2 separate regions of the Homo sapiens genome follow, and region 2 is linked to region 1. The links come from fine-mapping of genetic effects on gene expression. A gene starts in region 1. The other region holds a variant in brackets. All regions are shown on one strand. Distances are from middle to middle. Region 1 holds the start of CD63-AS1 (CD63 antisense RNA 1). Region 2 holds the start of MMP19 (matrix metallopeptidase 19).

Region 1 (9,098 bases):
TGGAGAAAACCCTGCAGGCCTGCTGGGCACGGCTGCCTCCTGCCACACAGGCCCACTATGGGGGGGCCTTCCTCACCAAGTGTGAGTAGCCAGGCCCACACAGGGGCACATGAAGGGAAACAAGTACCAGAAAGGCCAGTCCTGCATAAGCCTGCTAGGAGGTGGGTGGGGCACCCAGGGCAGGGTTGAGGGTGAACAGGATGTTACAAGAGTGCCCAGGCCATGTGGAACCTGCCCACTCCCCACACTGAGGAGGGGACTGAGGGTGACAAGCCCAGGGCCCCAGAAGACAGTACCTAAGATGGGCTGGAGTGAGGAAGGGAAACTGATTGCAACCACCTATGGGGCTGCAGACCTGAAAATGCAACAGCGCATCATGAACCTGATCTGTGACCCGGACCTAACCAAGGTGAGCCGATGCCTGGAGCATGCCCTGACTGCTCGACACCCCCGAACCCGCTACAGCCCAGGTTGGGATGCCAAGCTGCTCTGGCTGCCTGCCTCCTACCTGCCAGCCAGCCTGGTGGATGCTGTGCTCACCTGGGTCCTTCCCAAGCCTGCCCAAGCAGTCTACTGAATCCAGCCTTCCAGCAAGAGATTGTTTTTCAAGGACAAGGACTTTGATTTATTTCTGCCCCCACCCTGGTACTGCCTGGTGCCTGCCACAAAATAAGCACTAACAAAAGTGTATTGTTTAAAAAATAAAAAGAAGGTGGGCAGAAATGTGCCCAGTGGAAGGCTGACCCCATTTAAGTGCCAACTACTCCAAACCGACATGCTCACGGTCTCTGGCCTGTTCAGTCCCTGCAAAACAGCTAGCACCCACAGTGGGGCGCCAGGGAACTGCCTCACATCTACAGCTGCACGTCGGGGAGTGGCCATCAAAGGGCACTTTAATACATTTCCCTTATTTTCTGAAGGGGAGTAAGGTTGCAATTCAGTGTCTGTACTGGGAATGGTCTTCATATTTCTTGGGGGAGAAGAGCAGGTGATGAGGGTTCTGGGCCAGGCTGGGTGGCTTCCATGGAAGAAAAGGCAATATTCACATAAATTCTCCTGCTAAGGACACTGACCACACAGGTGTCAAGGCAACTTATCATACTTCGAAAGGAGCTGGATCCCTTGAGGATTGGCCAGGAAGGGAGGTGCTGGGCCCTTAGCGGTGCACAGAAGGCCAGGAAGATGTCCAAGGCAGATGGGGGCTGGGCTCTCGCAGGTGGGACCTTTCTGGGGAGCTGCTTTGACTTATGCAGCAGATGGCTTCATGAATGTTCATAGTGAGCCTGGCAGCATAAGACTAGGGGGCAGAAAGCACCACAGTCTCTGGATCCTCACTTCTCCCACTGCCTGCCCAACCAACACCTTCGCAAAGTCCTCCTTTCCCAAACACCCCCCAAAATAGACCTCGAAGTACACATGCATTAAGGTCCCAGAGGACAGGGAACATCAGTAAGGAAAGGAAGGAATCAAGCATCACTCTAAGACAAACTCAGACCATCTCTTTTCGGTCTGAAAAAATAATCCGTTTAATTGAAAAACCTGGAGGATACTATTCCACTCCCCCAGATGAGGAGGCTGAGGAGACCAGACCCCTACATCACCTCGTAGCCACTTCTGATACTCTTCACGAGGCAGCAGGCAAAGACAATTCCCAAAACCTAGAAGGAAAGATGGGGACAGGGGTGGAGAGGAGTCAGAAGGGCTAGCTACCTCAGACCCATGCAAGAGACTCCAAACACACACTCCCAGGCCAGTACCTCCTGTTCAGCACCCTCCTCCCCTCAGCCCCTTCCCTCCAGGCACCCTGGACAGAGTCCCAGCCCCTGCTCAGGGTTATCTCTTACCTCGACAAAAGCAATTCCAAGGGCTGCTGCAGCTACCACCAGCACATTTTTCCTCAGCCAGCCCCCAATCTTCTCCACACAGCCCTGAAGGTGGCAGGCACAAAGGACAAAAGCACCATCAGAAACTTCCCACCCCAACCCCCTCCCTTGGTCCATCAGTCTCTTCCCTGCCCCTGTACCTTTCACCCCACCCTTAGCATTTCCAGATCCCCTCCCCATCCCTGACCCTGTCCACCTCCATCCTGGGTCTCTTGCATTCTAAAACATTTCCCAGGTTTCCCAAGTCCCATACACAGTCTCCTCCCTACCTCCTTATGGATCGCCTTCTCGTTGAAATTAATCCCACAGCCCACAGTAACATTAATGCAGCAGGAGTCGGGGACTCGGTTCTTCGACATGGAAGGGATTTTCTCCCAATCTGTGTAGTTAGCAGCCCCACAGCACTTAAACTGGGGGAGGGAAGAAATATGGAGAAGAAGGTTGTTAAGTGAACCTTCACCTTCAATATGGAGATGAGAATTCTTTTTTTTTTTTTTTTTTTTTTTTTGAGACAGAGACTTGCTCTGTTGCCCAGACAAGTGCCCAGCGGTGGCTCAATCTCGGCTCACTGCAACCTCCGCCTCCCGGGTTCAAGCGATTCTCCTGCCTCACCCTCCTGAGTAGGTGGGATTACAGGCACTCACCACCACACCTGGCTAATTTTTGTATTTTTAGTAGAGACAGGGTTTCACCACGTTGGCCAGGCTAGTCTTGAACTTCTGACCTCAGGTGATCTGCCCACCTCGGCCTTCAAAAGTGCTGAGATTACAGGCGTGAGTCACCACACCCAGCCTTGGAGATGAGAATTCTCTATTCCCACCACCCCTGCTCCCAGCAACCCCACTCACATCTGCCTGCATCCTGTCCAGGATCGAAGCAGTGTGGTTGTTTTTCGGGTAATTCTCCATCTGCTGCCGGAAGTTGTTATTAAACTCTGACATCACCTGAGAGTACGGAGGAGCACTGTTGCAGTCAGAATTCAAGCACCAGGGTCCCAGACCCGGCTGAGGCAGGCCCTTCCCATTATTCCCTGCTTACCTTATCTCTAAACACATAGCCAGCAATGGCTGCGGCCACCTCCACCAACATGATAAGAGACAGAAAGATGGCAAACTGCAGGAGCAAAGGACAGAAGTCAAGTTTGGAGTCTATGCATTACAGGGGCCCGTTTTGGCACAGCCGGTCCCTGGACACTCACAAAGGTCTTCCTCACCCACCCACCTCACCCACCTTCCTGAGCCCGAACCAAGCTGCTCTGGCAGTCCCAGACCGCCCATGTTGGTCCCGCCCCCAACTCACCGTGATCATAAGACAATAGTTCTCCTTGCAGGCCCCGCAGCAGCCCACAAAAGCCACCAGGAAGAGGAAGACACCCACTGCGATGATGACCACTGGCAACAGAGAGCCAGGGGTAGCCCCCTGGATTATGGTCTGACTCAGGACAAGCTGTGCCCCGACACCCACGGCAATCAGTCCCACTGCACAGGCCTAAGAGAAAATCAGGTGAGGATTAGGCCATATCCACAACACAGTGGCCCTCCATGGTGGAGGGCAGGGGGTACACCTAGGACACAGACTTGACCCCATCCGGAAGAGAGATTCTCACACCTCTAGGGAATTTCTTTGGCTGTGGGGTAGGGGGATGACCCATCCTTGCCTGCCCCTACCTCCCCTGATCCCCTCCCGGCTCTTTAATCAGGGACATGACCAAATTCAAAAACCTCCCAGAAAGCCTTGACCTCAAGACACGTATTTCTGACCTAGAATAATGCTTTCTACAGGCCTCCAGGGCTCCCAGCTCAATTCTCTCCCAGAACTGCCCCCTCACTATCCTCCAGTGCACATCCCACGCGCGCATCAGCTGTGACTAAGGTTCCTCTGGCCAGTTAGGCCAGGAGAAGGGAAGAGGAAAAGGGAGCAAGAGTGATGTGTCCCTCCCTAGACAAACAGTAGCCTCTCAAGCCAGGAGCCCAGGGCAGGAGCAAATTGAAGTGGGCAGAGCCCTTCCTCACCCCCAAGCGCTGGGAGGAGGGAAAGGGGGAGAGGGGCTGGACAGGGATGAGAGGGTTGGGGAGGGAGAGAGGGGAGAAGGGAGAGCGAAGGGAAGCCCCATGGCGATAGCATCAGGCGGTTGGCTGGTTGCCCCACTGCCCCATATCACAAGTGGTTGGGTCACCAGACAGGAAGGGCCAGGAGGGATGGGGGTAGGGGTTGCTGCACACCCAGGATGGCCATTCTCGGTGGAAACAAGCCTCAGGTGTCCAGGAAAACTGGAGGAGGGAGTGGCTGCGCTGTCTTTCCCTGGCTTTCTTTCCACATCTGGTCTCCAGCTGCCTTAATTCTCATTCCCTCAGCCCTCACCACTGTGGAGCCAGGTCTCCCCGCACCCTGCCGGCGCGCCCCCCAGGACCCCTCGCCACTCACGCAAAAGGCCAGCAGGAGGACGTAGAGCAAGAACTTCACACATTTCATTCCTCCTTCCACCGCCATGGCTGCCGGGCCTGGGGCAGAGGGGAGGGCGGGGGGATTAAAACTGGCCGAAGGGGGACCTCGGTTTCCGGGCTCCCGGCCGGCCCTCGAGGGCTTCCCTTCACGGCCCCGATTCCCGGCCCCTCCCACCCGGAAACCCGCGGTCGGATCCACGTCTCCCAGCCCCCTCTTTACCCGCAGGAGAGGGGTGGGGGCGACGGCCGCGAAGCCCGGACCCCGCCCCGCCGCCTCTGGGGCCCAGGACAGATCCAAGGGCGCCGGCAGGGGCTTGAGCCTGACGCCGACCCTCGGCCCGCCAGTCTCCGGGCGTCAAACACCCTTTCCCCACCCAACACCCAGCCTGGAGAAACGGTCTTCAGCCCAACCCCGACCCCCGCCCCAGCCCCTTTCCCCTGGGCTCTGACCTCCCCGCCCACCAAAAAAAAAAAAAGTGCAGCCAGCACCCCCGCCACACCCTGCCCGGGCCCAGGGAACTTCGAAGCAAAGTTGCTCCAGGGCGGCTGGAGAGCGCCGGACGAGTCTCCGCGGGCCTGGGGCGAGCCCTGGAGGAAGGGACTGCGGGTGGTCTCTCCCAGCCCGCGCCGAAGTCCGCCGGGTCCCCGCGGCCTCACCTGGGCTTCCCAAGGCTGGCTGCGCGTTCCTCTCCCGCCGCGGCTCCGGGGCTCTCTAGCTGCGCCCCCCGGCTCCCGCCCCGCCTGCCGCGCGGCCCCGCCCCGGGCTCCAGCCACGGTCCCCTCCCCCGCCGAGTGGCCGCCGGCCTCCCTCATGTGACGCGGTAACAGCTGCGGCCTGAGTCACTGGGCCCGGCGCGGGGTGGGCCGAGCCCCCCGCCCGGCCAGGGCCACGTGGCCCCTACCCGGAAGAAGGCGCCCACCCCCGCAAAGGGAAAGCCGCAAGGGCAAGACCTCGGGGCGCCTGGGGCCCCCCTCTGGCGCTATACCTCCGTGCCAACTCGGGGTAGGAGAGCGGGGCGGAGCGCAGCCTGGGTCACTCTGGTTCAGAGAAGCGGACGAGGTGGGTGAGAGTTACCCTCTGAGCGCCGGGGCGGAGAGCTGAGGCCGGGTGACAATGTGGTCTGTGAGGTTTCCCCATCCTACCGTAGGGGATGAGCCAGCTCTCTCCTCTGGCTCCAACTCTGTGCAAGCCCCCTCCCCATCCGACTGTGCAGACAGCTGGGGACTGCCTGGGGTCGGGTGGGGCCAGAACAAACACTTCCAGAAAGTCCCTGGCTCACATCCTGGGTGTCTCCCAACATTCTACAGCATTCTAGAGTGGGGATTTCTGGCCCCCCTCTATTAGCACAGCTTCTCCATTTTCCAGGGATCCTAGTCTGAGAAAAGGGGAGGAAGCCCTTCCCCGAAGCCACGCTACCCAGTCAATCAAGACACGTCCGCGTCGGGTCCCGCCCTCTGGGGGAGGATTGACAAGGTCTGTGCTTCCAGCCTCCCAGACAGCTCCTGCATCCGTCTGTGATAGCGAGGGCTTGGGGGAAGACACGAAGGCAGGAGAGGCTTACATCCTCTGGATTTCCCCGTCTTATCCCAGAAGACAAAGCCAGGTGAGGGCTGGAAGCGGGCTAGGGGGATCAAGCTGCCTCCCTCCCTTGTGTGCCAGGGGTGGTCCCCAGAAGGAGCTGATCTGAACAGGCCGGAGAGTAGGACCGGCCGTCACACCCCCACACCTCCAGCCTCGGCCCCACTCCTTGGGCTCTTAAGGTCCTGCCTCAAGAACCACTTCCTGAGTCTTAGTGTATGTGTGTACACAAAGAATGAAAGAAGTCTCTAGAGCTAAAGGAAGGAGATCCGGGCTGGGCTGAGAAGCATCTTCCAGGATCACGGCCTTCCCGCGGGACACACCAAGCCCATTCCGGATCTTGCTCTTCCTGACCATGGCTGGCAGGCTGTGGAGGAGGAGCGGAGAGCAGAAGAAAGGAGTATTCATCAGGTTCCTTATTGTGCTGCCACTAGATGCCAGGCATGTGCTAGGCTTGGGGGCTGCAAGGAGAGGAAGACAGCGGCCCTGCCCTCTGCTAGCAGGCAGAACCGAGTTCTGGCCACACTGTGAAGAAAGGCAGAAGCCTGCGGTGGCAGCTGGTTAAGCTCAGAGGGAGGGAAAGGGAGAGGAGAATGGATTTCACGGAGCAGAAGGATGTGCTCAAGGTGACCTTGGAGAATAAAGGGGAGAGCTCCAGGGACAGAGAAGCAGTCGACTGTGGAAAAAAAAGGAGCATTTTGTAAAGTACATGGCAGGTTGGGGTTGGCTGGCTCAAAGGGCTTGGGACGGATGTGGTGAGATGGGCTGAAGGTGGTCTGAAGATCAAGATTGAGAGACTAGATACATAACAACCAACTGCAATGTTTGGTCCTTCATTGAATGGTTGAACAAACCAGCTGTGAAAGACATTTTGGGACATACAGACATGGACTGAGAATTAGACATAAGAAAATTATTTTGTTAACTGTTATCATGGTTAACAAAACGGTCATATAATATGATTATGTAGAGAAGTTACTCTAGTTTTTCCTCTTTTTTTTTCTTTATTCTCCTATCAGCCAATGCATTTGTTACAGGAAAGGGGTCCCAATCCAGACCACAAGAGAGGGTTCTTGGATCTCATGCAAGAAAGATTCAGGGCGAGTCGCAGTGCAAAGTATAAGCAAGTTTATTAAGAAAGTAAAGTGGTGAAACAACAGCTGCTCCATAGACAGAGTAGGATGTTCCCCAAAGTAAGAGGAGGGGCTAGGCGCAGTGGCTCACCACACCTGTAATCCCAGCATTTTGGGAGGCCTAGGCAGGTGGATCACCTGAGGTCAGGAGTTCGAGACCAGCCTGGCCAACACGGTGAAACCCCGTCTCTACTAAAAATACAAAAAGTAGCTGGGCACAATGATGTGTGCCTGTAGTCCCAGCTACTCAGGAGGCTGAGGCAGGAGAATCACTTGAACCCAGGAGGCAGAGGTTGCAGTGAGCAGAGATCGTGTTGCTGCATGCCATCCTGGGCAACAAGAGTGAAACTCCGTCTCTCTTTTTTTTTTTTTTTTTTTTGAGACGGAGTCTCGCTCTGTCACCAGGGTGGAGTGCAGTGGTGCCATCTTGGCTCACTGCAACCTCCGCCTCCCGTGTTCAAGTGATTCTCCTGCCTCAGCCTCCCAAGTAGCTGGGACTACAGGCACGCACCACTACGCCCAGCTAATTTTTGTGTTTTTAGTAGAGATGGGGTTTCACCATATTGGCCAGGATGGTCTCCATCTATTGACCTCGTGATCCGCCCCCTCAGCCTTCCAAAGTGCTGGGATTACAGGCGTGAGCCACTGTGCCCGGCAAAACTCTGTCTCAAAAAAAAAAAGTAAGAGGAGGAACACATTCACCCTCGGTATAATGCTTGTATATATGGAGAGATGTGCTCTGCTACAAAAGTTTGTGATAAAGGATTAATTTTCTTAATTACTGTATTTTGTAAGAATCGATATTATCTTTTTTATTATTATTAATTTGTTTCCTTAACCATAAACATCTAGGTTTTTTGTTTTTGTTTTTGTTTTTGAGATGGAGTTTTGCTCTTGTTGCCCAGGCTGGAGTGCAGTGGCACAACTCACCACAACCTCTGCCTCCCAGGTTCAAGAGATTCTCCTGCCTCAGCCTCCTGAGTAGCCGGGATTACAGGCATGCGCCACCATGCCTGGATAATTTTGTATTTTTAGTAGAGCCGATATTGTGCCATTGCACTCCAGCCTGGGCAACAGAGCGAGACTCTGTCTCAAAGAAAAAGAAAGAAAGATGAAAATGTTGTGGAGATGGATGGTGCTGATGGTTGCACAATGTGTATGTACTCAATGTCCCTGAATTTTATGTTATATATATTTTACTACACACATACACACAAAGAATGGCCCACTTCTACAGCCTGGAAAGTTGACACAGAGCTCCATGTGTTTGCTGGGGTGCAGGATAGAGGGGCCTCTTAGTGGGAAGTGGCTGATCTCAGACCTGGCCCTTCACATCCTTCAGATCCCCCAGCACCTGTTCCAAGTGCCTGACATCCAGATATGCCACCAAGCCGTCCTGGCTGGCCCAGGCTGCTGCCTCTTGGTTGCCTGGCACCAGTTGGTGGTAGGTGTGCTGAGGCGGGGACCCTTGTCCCTCCACACCAAGCAAAGCCAGCTTTCCCTCCAGCTTCACCACGCCTCCACCTAGGCCCAGCGACACAGCATGGGGGCCACAGATGTCTCAAGCAAACCTGCAGCCTTCTGAGAGCATGTAGGCATCAGCCAGACCCAGTGCCATGCACAGCAGCTTGTAGCCTGCATCTAAGCACAGGAAAGGGTGAGGGGATATGAGGAGGGTGAGGGGATATGAGGAAGGTGAGGAAGAAAGAAGGGATCCAGAATCAAGGGAAAAGAACAGTTGAGGAGAGTTGGGAGAGGGGTGAGGAAAAACCGGAAAGTGAGAGACATAGAGGAGGGTGGGAGGCATGGGGAAGGATGGGGGAAGAGGAGGCAAAAATACATGAAGGATCAATGCTTCTTGGGCTTCAGTTTAAAAAACATTTTCTTTAATTTTTGAAAAATAGGTGTAAGAGAGGAGTGGGGAGAGGGAAGAGGAAGAGATAGGGATGGGAGGGAAGAAGGAAACAAGGATGCATCATCAAAGCCATCCCCCCACTGGGAGGGTAAGGAGAGTGGTGGATAAAATTCAAGGTCCAGAGGTTGGGTCTGAAATGGGGGC
Region 2 (9,098 bases), 110 kb after region 1:
TGCCTATAAGGTAAAGTAATGCTGCTTAGGGAGAGAACTCACAGCACCTGTCCTCCACACCAGTCTCCTGTAAGTTTTGCTCAGAGTCCCCATACAGAGGGGAAAAGGGAATCCTAGAGCGTTTTCATTTGTGGTAGGCAATATTATGTTGATATCAGCGGGAGACACGTTCTAGGTTTGAGAGACACCAGAAAGGGAGAAGGAGGATTGTTAAAATGTGCATTCTTGCCGGGTGTGGTGGCTCACGCCTATAATCCTAGGACTTTGGGAGGCTGAGGCGGGTGGATTGCCTGAGCTCAGGAATTTAAGACCAGCCTGGGCAACATGGTGAAACCCCATCTCTACTAAAATACAAAAACAATTAGCTGGGCGTGGTTGCGTGTGCCTGTAATCCCAGCTACTTGGGAGGCTGAGGCAGGAGAATGGCTTGAACCCGGGAGGCGGAGGTTGCAGTGAGCCAAGATCATGCCATTGCACTCCAGCCTGGGTGACAGAGTGAGGCTCTATCTCAAAAAAAAAAAAAAAAAAAAAGAAGGTGCATTCTCCATCCCCAAGCATGGGTGTAAGGAGAGAGGCCTGGAAGGAAGATTAGACATAGAAGAGTCTGAGAAAAACTGCTCCTGAAAATGAAGAAGCCTGAGTAACTGGGCTGGAGGAGAAGAAAGACACTAAGCTATATCCCTACATGGAGGCTAGACCTGTCTCTTCAAGCCTTGACGTGGGAGTCAGACTGACCCTCCCCCTCACTAGGGGGAGGGACTGACCATAGAGAGCCTGGATCCCTGCCACATCATCTGGGTGCAGCTTAAAGTGGGGCCGGTAGCCCTCGTAGACTGGGGCCATGAGGGCCTGGGAATATCGGGAGTGCCCAAGCCCCAGAGCATGGCCCACTTCATGGGCTGCAATGATGCGCAGGTTCACCCCACGGTAGGTCCCCTCAGTCCAGAACTCGTCTTCGTCGAAGTGCACACTGCCCAGCTCTGGGATGTCGGCATGGGCCAGGACTCTCCCTGGACAAAGGCAAAGGTGAACAGGAAGGAGGTCAGAGCCCGCTAGGCTAGAGCACACCCTGCCTATTATAAACTCTAATTAATGCATACCTTTAAAATTCCCCCAGCTATGTTCACTGTCTCTTGGATGCTTCTTTCTCCCCTTTCAGATTCCCCTGTCATCACCCAGTTCTCTCAGGAATGCCCATCACTGTCCCTTACCTTCCCAGCCACTCCCTGCTCTCTGACCCAGTCCTCTCTGGCCCATACCTCTAAGGTATGCCTTGAACAGGGGAACTTAAGGGAGAAAAAGAAGCATAGGCAGCCAGGGGTGATGGCTCACACCTGTAATCCCAACACTTTCAGAGGCCAAGGCAGGAGGATTGCTTGAGTACAGGAGTTTAAGACCAGCCTGGGCAACATAGCAAAACTTCATCTCTACAAAAATTAGCCAGGTGTGGTAGTGTTTGCCTGTAGTCTCTACCTGGGAGGCTGAGGCGGGAGGATCACTTGAGCCTGGGAGGTTGAGGCTGCAGTGAGCCATGATTGTGTCACTGTACTCCAGTCTGGGCAACAGAGTGAGACTGTCAAGCAAGCAAGAGAGAGGAAGGAAAGAAGGGAGGGAGGGAGGGAGGGAGAGAAGGAAGGAAGGGAGGGAGGGAGGGAGAGAGAGAAGGAGAGAAGGAAGGGAGGGAGGGAGAGAAGGAAGGGAGGGAGGGAAGGAGAGAGAAGGAGAGAAGGAAGGGAGGGAGGGAGGAAGTTTCAAACAGGAGGCTCCATGTAGATGACCAACTGCGCCCGTGCTCCCGTTAGGAGGTAATTAGAGAGCGTATGGTGCAGGTGGGATAAAGAGCAGCCCAAACATCAAGGTTCTAGAGTCACTGGTTCAAGGAGACAGAGGTAATCTCAGAGGTCTATGAGGTGGGAACTGAGAACTGTTGCCTACCAGGCCCATCAAAAGTATTGGAACAGTACGAGCTTTGGCGGCCATGGAAGGAGAGGCGGATGTCAGCCGCACCAGCCTGCACCTCTTGGAAGGTCAAGGGAGCCACATTGCTCCAGTCCTGGAAGGCTTGACGCAGGGCTGCCCGGGCTGTGTGGGGTGGAAGGGTGGAGGGCAGGTTCAAGATGCGGAAAGTCAGGTGCTTCTTTCTCCAGCGGCCTAGTTAATGACCAGAAAACAGATTAGAAATACAGATCCTTCTGCCAACCCCAGAGAGCTCCTCTGGGTTTAGGCACTCAACCCCCAAGACAGGTGACAACCAGGTAATCACCAGGTGATTATCTATTCAACACTGAGCTGGTCCAGACTGTCCTAATGCCACCCACACGCCAGAACCACATCACCCCCTCCTCTCCCTCTCTTTTCCAGGCTCTGTTCTCACCCAGCAACAGGTATTTAAGGGTCTTCTGGTTGAAGGGATCCTCTAGGCCACAACGAGGCTGCCTCATGCGGGCCCTTGTGGCATCATCCAGCTGACCTGAGACTGGAAGTTCAGATGCTTCCTGAAAAGCTCTGAAGGAGGGAGAGGGATGGGTCTACCAGGACAGGAAAATCTGAAATGACTGGGAGATGATTGCTCTTTGACTTCCTGCTGCCCAAGTTCATGGCCAAGAATAGCACAGAATCCCTGAAGCTGACAGGGTTACTCCAGCCTCCAGTCCTCATAACTGGGACTTTCTCTTCTGTTCTGCAGAAATGGAGATACTCCAGCTTCATCTCCCCATTTTCAGTGTCTTTTATTTGAGTAAGTTTGCCCTCAGGTGTAGCCTTCCTCCTCTACTGCAATCTTCCTTCCTTCCTTCCTTCCTTCCTTCCTTCCTTCCTTCCTTCCTTTCTTTTTCTTCTCTCTTTCTTTCTTCCTTTCTTTCTTTTTTGGTAGAGATGGGGTCTCATTATGTTGCCCAGGTTGCTGTCAAACTTCTGGGCTCAAGCAATCCCCCTGCCTGGATCTCCCAAAGTGCTGGGATTACAGGCGTGAGCCACCATGCCCAGCCCCTCTACTGCAATTTCTAACCTTCTCCTACTCTGTGGAGGTGTCTGGCTCCCCTGCTCTGGAGAGCTTTCCACTAGTGCTCCCACCTGACAGCCTGTCCTCCTTCAGCCTTCTCCCTTCCTGAATGGATACCCGTCCCAGCCCAGCTTGCCCTGGAGCAATTTCATCCATCTATGGACTGTCATAGGGCCTAGGGGCTTTTCAAGGGACCTGAACATATCTGAGAGCAGAAAGAAAAATAATCCATTACATCAACATATAAAACTATAAAATAGAAATAAATAAGTACCAAATTGAAGGCCCACAAAAGGTAATAGCATGTCAACAACTCAACTCAGTTTTACATATCATTACACTTTATGTGGACTATAACTAAATATTAGTATTTGAGATATGATGTGGGTAGAGACTCCAAAGGAATGCTTATGGCCTAGGAAGATCCAATGCCTGTATTCCTCATCTGTGAATCCCCATCTCACCCCATGCCCCACCACCATAATAATGATCGCCACCCATCTCTAAATCCCTGGCATGGTTTAGGGTCAGGAGGAGGTGGGCCTGGGGAGAGGAAGGGATGAGAAGGAAGAAGACCTTGAGACCTTAGCCCTAAAGGCATACACCTCATAGCTTCTCACCTCAGAGCCTCGGTGATATCTTCTGGCTTGAAGTTATTAGATCCTTCTAGAGGCTTCTGTAGGTACCCATATTGTGACAGGTAGTCCTATGATGGGAGTGGAGGTAAGCAGGTTAAAAGGGGGTTAGTCTCAGAGTAAAGCTTCTAAGTGACCTAACAGATCCATCAGGAGAGGAGGGACC[T/C]GATATGGAAGCACTAATGGAGAAGCACCTTAGAGAAGGGGCTCAGGTGGAACAAGGGGAAGCAGCGGGAGATGGGCAGGGTAGACCATGGGGCAGAGAGAGCAAGGGAAAGGCAGGCAGGCTGAAGGTCAGGAGGGAGGCTTCGATGGGGCTGTGGAGCAGTAACCCCTGTCCCTCCGCTGGCCCAGGTCTCTTTCTTGGGGGACTTACCACAGGCGCCACCTCTGCAAGCCCCAGGACCCGGCCTGAGACTGTCATGGGGAGTAGGAAGCCCAGCCACAGCTGCTGGCAGTTCATGGTCCCACCAGACGAGAGCTCCAGAGGCTGTCCGTGCCTCTGACCTGAGATTTCTGGGAGCCTTGGGGGAGCAGTGCTAGGCAGAGGGGCTCTTACCCCCAGTTCTTTTTACTCTCCAGCCTCTAGTCCTCTTTATAACAGCTGAGGGGAATTTGGGGGAGAGGCAGAGGGAGGTGACTCAGCCAAGAGATATGTTGCAATTCACCATTAACCCTTGCCCTACCAGAGAGCGGAAGCCAAAGAGAGTTCCCAATCGCTTCCCTCAGAGTCCTCTGCTGGAGATGGAAAAACTTCATACTGCCCTAGGGTGAGCATCCAGGCAGGACGAGAACCAGAATCTCTGGAGAGACTAGAGATAGGGATCATGGACATCCCCTGGAATTAGACATCAATGTGCCTCAGGGACCCTGGGCCAGCAAATCACTCCGCCCCTACCTTTGAGTCTCCCTAGAATAAGCTGAGAGGTAGGAAACAGCTGAGGTAGCTTGGGTTTCAGGTGAAGGAGTCAAGCGTGAAGTCTCAGTTTCTTTGTACCCAAGACCAAGTTGGGAATATAGATGCTCCTGCAACCTACTTATGTCTGCTTTAATAAAAAGTCATTATTTCAAGAATCTAATGAGCCTGGAATATGTGGGTGTAGGTGGGACTTAACAAGGGCACAAATAAGTAAAGGGCCCAGAGCCTACCCTCAGGGAGCTTACGGATCCAGTGAGGCAGATCCAGACACCTGGGAAGAGGGGAGCCAGCGTGCCAGGCCAGAGGTGATTCACCCTAAGGGGCTTGGGGCTGGGGGGAGGTTTGCTGAGAAGTCAGGCTTTGAGATGGGCTTTGAAGGCCAGCTAAGAATTGATGGGGTAAGGCCAGGCATGGTGGCTCGCTCCTGTAATCCTAGCACTTTGAAAGGCTGAGGTGGGTGAATCACTTGAGATCAAGAGTTCGAAACCAGCCTGACCAACATGGTGAAACCTTGTTTCTACTAAAAATACAAAAATTAGCCAGGTATGGTGGCGGGCGCCTGTAATCCCAGCTACTCGGCAGGCTGAGGCAGGAGAATCACGTGAACCCAGGAGGCAGAGGTTGCAGTGAGCTGAGATCACACCATTGCACTCCAGCCTGGGCAACAGAGCAAAAACTCCATCTCAAAAAAAAAAAGAATTGATAGGGTAAAAGGATACTGAGAGACAGACAGTGCAGGTCTTGAGTAAAAGTGCAGAGCTGAGAGACTGCTGTACTCAGTAAGTCAGAAGGGTCACGACTGCTTCATTCACCACTGAAGCCCGAGTGCCTACCCCAGGCCACCTCCATGCTTTCGAGGCTGTGCTTAATAAATCACTGTCAAAGAATGACCAGGGTGGGAAAGTGGTTGGGAGACAGAATTTGGAGAGGGCCTTAAATGCTATGCAAGGAAAAGAAGAAAAACTTACATTTAAAAATACCGGACGGGAGCAGTGGCTCACGTCTGTAATCCCAGCACTTTCGGAGGCTGAGGTGGGCGGACCATGAGGTCAGGAGTTTGAGACTAGCCTGGCCAACATAGCAAAATCTTGTCTCTACTAAAAATACAAAAATTAGCCAGGCGTGATGGCATGCGCCTGTAATCCCAGCTACTCGGGAGACTGAGGCAGGAGAATTGCTTGAACTGGGGAGGCGGAGATTGCAGTGAGCTGAGATCGCGCCACTGTACTCCAGCCTGGTGACAGAATGAGACTCTGTCTCAAAATTAGTTAATTAGTTAATTAATTAAAATAAAAATACCTATTATTGGGTGATGGGTGAACCAAAATCTCACAAATCACCACTAAACACTAAAGAATTTATGTAACCAAATACCACCTGTTCCCCAAAAACCTATGGAAATAAAAAATTAAAGGAATTAAAGTCCGGGCATGGTGACTCACACTTGTAATCCCAGCACTTTCGGAGGCCGAGGTGGGTGGATCACCTGAGGTCAAGAGTTTGAGACCAGCCTGACCAACATGGTGAAACCCCGTCTCTACTAAAAATACAAAAATTAGCCAGGCGTGGTGGCACGCGCCTGTAATCCCAGCTACTCAGGAGGCTGAGGCAGGAGAATCGCTTGAATCCGGGAGACAGAGGTTGCAGTGAGCTGAGATCGCACCACTGCACTCCATCCTGGGCGACAGAGCGAGACTCTGTCCCCCCACAAAAAAAAAATAAATAAATAAATAAATAAAAAGCTACTATGTATTACATGCTTTATATATTACCTCCTATAGTTCTCACAGCCATCTGGTGAGGGGAAAATTATTCCGGCCACTTTTTGTAGGAGGAAATAGATACTCAGAAAGGGAAATTTGACCAAGAACATGGAACTCCCAACTGGCCTGACCTTATTTAAATCCCTCTGCTGACTCTATAACTCATGCTCTTTCCGTACACCACACTGACACTTAGAGCTTTGTTCTTTAAGTAACTAGGACCCCTGAAGGCTCCACCATCAGTTACACATCATACAACATTTTCATATTGTTCAAAAGCACAGTGAAGTAGACATAGGAATGGGGGAAAAGGTAACTGAACTTTTATGTTCTCAGAAGGGCTGGGAGGCCACAAGGGAACACCTCACAGCCCAGGATCAAGGTGGGGGATGCTCCTGATCCATATTGCTGCCCTCAATGATGCTGGTCCGTCTGGCCCATCCACCACCCAACTGGTAACCATTGGGTGACTAAGTCTCAAGTGACCAGTGACAGGCAAGGAAGGACAGAAAGCCTCTGAGCGATGAGTGACAGGGCCCATCACCAAGGCTGATGCACCCAGGAAATGATGGAGTTTGGGGACAAGTTCCTGCTTAGTCCCCTGCGGGGCTCTTCCTCCTCTCTTTCTACCCCCTTTCCAGTCTTTCTCCTTTTGAGAACAGAACATGCGCCAATTGAAAATTAATTACGATTTTTAAAATTAATGTTTTGTGTTTTTTTCCTGAATAAGTTATTCATCATTCATTATAATATTTGGTATTAGAAAATACCAAAACAAACAAGGAAGAAAATGAAAACCACTAGTAAATTCTACCCAAAAGAGAACCACTAGTAACATTTTGATGCATTTCTTTGAAACTGTCTGTGGAACTGAGCTCACCCAGCTCCGCCTGCCTGGCCTCAGCCCCTAGAGACTGTCTGGGAGGGAGGAGAAAGCTTTGGGAGCCAGAGAGGATAATGGAGGAGAGGTGAGGGGAGGGGTGGGGAAGAGACAGACAAGGAGGATGCAAGGGACAGGAGTAAAGTAAAATGAATGTTATAGCAAATTACTCCCTCCCCTTAGAAACCTCATGTAAGGAAAAAAAGAAAAAAAAATTTTTTTTTGGGTCTCCCAGGCTGGAAAACAGTGGCACAATAATCCTGGCTCGCTGCAACCTTCGCCTTCTGGGCTCAAGCAATCCTCCCACCTCAGCCTCCTGCATAACTGGGGCTACAGGCACACACCACCCAGCCCAGCTAATTTTTGTATTTTTTGTAGAGAGTGTGGGGGGTGGGGGAGGCGGGTTTCCTATGGTGCTCAGGCTGGTCTTGGGCTCAAGTGATCGGCCCACCTCGGCCTCCCAAAATGCTGTGATTATACGTGTGAGCCACTGTGCCTAACCAGAAAAAAAAAGTGTGTGTGTGTATATATATGTGTGTGTATATATATATATATATATTTAGTGTGTTAGGGAGAGAGATGGCAGTTATCATAAGGTGAGGGTGGGTACTAACTCCGGCCTCAGAAGGCCTGGGGGTGGAACTATATTCTAGCAACTTAGGAGCCAGGAGAGAGAGAATAAATCAAAAGTAAAAGCTGCCAAATAGATAACTTCATTTAAATTTTAACAACAACCCTTCAGCCAGTATTATCATCTTTTTTACTCCTTTTCTGAGACTGAATCTCACTCTGTAGCCCAGGCTGGAGTGCAGTGGCGCAATCTCGGCTCACTGCAACCTCTGCCTCCCGGGTTCAAGCAATTCTCCTGCCTCAGCCACCCGAATAGCTGGGATTACAGGCGCGTGCCACCACACCCAGCTAATTTTTGTACTTTTAGTAGAGATGGGATTTTGCTGTGTTGGCCAGGCTGGTCTCAAACTCCTGAGCTCAAGTGATCCACCTCCCTTGGCCTCCCAAAGTGCTGGGATTACAGGCGTGAGCCACCGCACCTGGCCAGTATTATCATCTTTTTACAGAAAGAGAAACTGAGTCTCTAATAAGTTGCTTCAGGTCACATAGCTAGGATGCAGCAGAGCCTGGAGCAGGCTCTAAAGCTGCCATCTTTGCTCAGCACTCTTCAGTCTCCCAGAGTTCCCACAGGCACCCAAACAAAAGCCCCTAGAGTCTGGAGCTGCAGGCTGGGCACATGTGCAAGGATTGGATGACTAATTGTTGCCAGCACAGCATCATGACCACCCCCTCCACCAGCTCCTACCCCCTGAGCCGGGCTGACCCAGCTCTTTTTTGTCATCTCTAAATTTGTCATCTCTCACTGGGGGAGATGTGGACGTGTGTGCGAAGGGTTAGGACATGTGGCTTGCCTGCCCCAAAAAGAGAACTTGATCTGAGAGAAAAAAATGGGTTCTTTGTCTTGCTTGCTCCCTTCCTGCAAGTTGGTTTCCCTCTCTGTCCACAAATTGTGGCAAAAGAGTTTTACAGAAATATTTTTAATGACAATATTTTAAACTATAGCAAGTGGGAGTAGAGTAGACCTCTGAGAGTATTTTCTAATGATCAGGGGCCATGGGGTTATGGGTGGAAGGCAAAAGTTTGTAGAGATTTCTAAGCCCAGCAGAAGCTAATCTCAAAGCTATCGCCCACCCCCTCTGACAGCCACCCTTACCCTGTGGAGGCAGTGGGCAGGGAAGCTGGGGAAAGAAGAAAGGGGAATCCTGGAGGGCAGGTAGAAGGGCAAGTCTGGAGCCTGAAACTGGAAACTGGAGGTGAGAAAAACATGAGCTGTAACCAAGTTAGGGCTGGCCCCGACTTTGCCCTTGACCTGGATAAATGTGGGAGTTGG

What was found.
Region 2: its variant is fine-mapped to the expression of CD63-AS1 in blood mononuclear cells (TOPMed, PIP 0.92).

Annotation. Positions count from the first base shown.
Region 1 is chr12:55,723,969-55,733,066 of GRCh38, forward strand. It overlaps CD63-AS1 (CD63 antisense RNA 1), which reads left to right and starts at 5,126. Exons shown (of 2, transcript NR_183514.1): 1 at 5,126-5,387; 2 at 5,694-6,884. It overlaps RDH5 (retinol dehydrogenase 5), which reads left to right. Exons shown (of 5, transcript NM_002905.5): 4 at 1-81; 5 at 354-737. The coding sequence ends at 577. It overlaps CD63 (CD63 molecule), which reads right to left and starts at 5,041. Exons shown (of 8, transcript NM_001780.6): 1 at 4,985-5,041; 2 at 4,308-4,384; 3 at 3,183-3,371; 4 at 2,922-2,996; 5 at 2,732-2,827; 6 at 2,153-2,293; 7 at 1,845-1,928; 8 at 1,355-1,658. The coding sequence starts at 4,373. The coding sequence ends at 1,593. BLOC1S1-RDH5 (BLOC1S1-RDH5 readthrough) reads left to right here. Exons shown (of 6, transcript NR_037658.1): 5 at 1-81; 6 at 354-774. RefSeq lists silencers at 4,438-4,737, 5,008-5,387 and an enhancer at 4,867-5,473.
Region 2 is chr12:55,838,732-55,847,829 of GRCh38, forward strand. It overlaps MMP19 (matrix metallopeptidase 19), which reads right to left and starts at 4,205. Exons shown (of 9, transcript NM_002429.6): 1 at 4,013-4,205; 2 at 3,622-3,707; 3 at 2,375-2,505; 4 at 1,936-2,151; 5 at 765-1,010; 6 at 1-3. The coding sequence starts at 4,099. The variant T/C (reference allele first, on the strand shown) is at 3,803.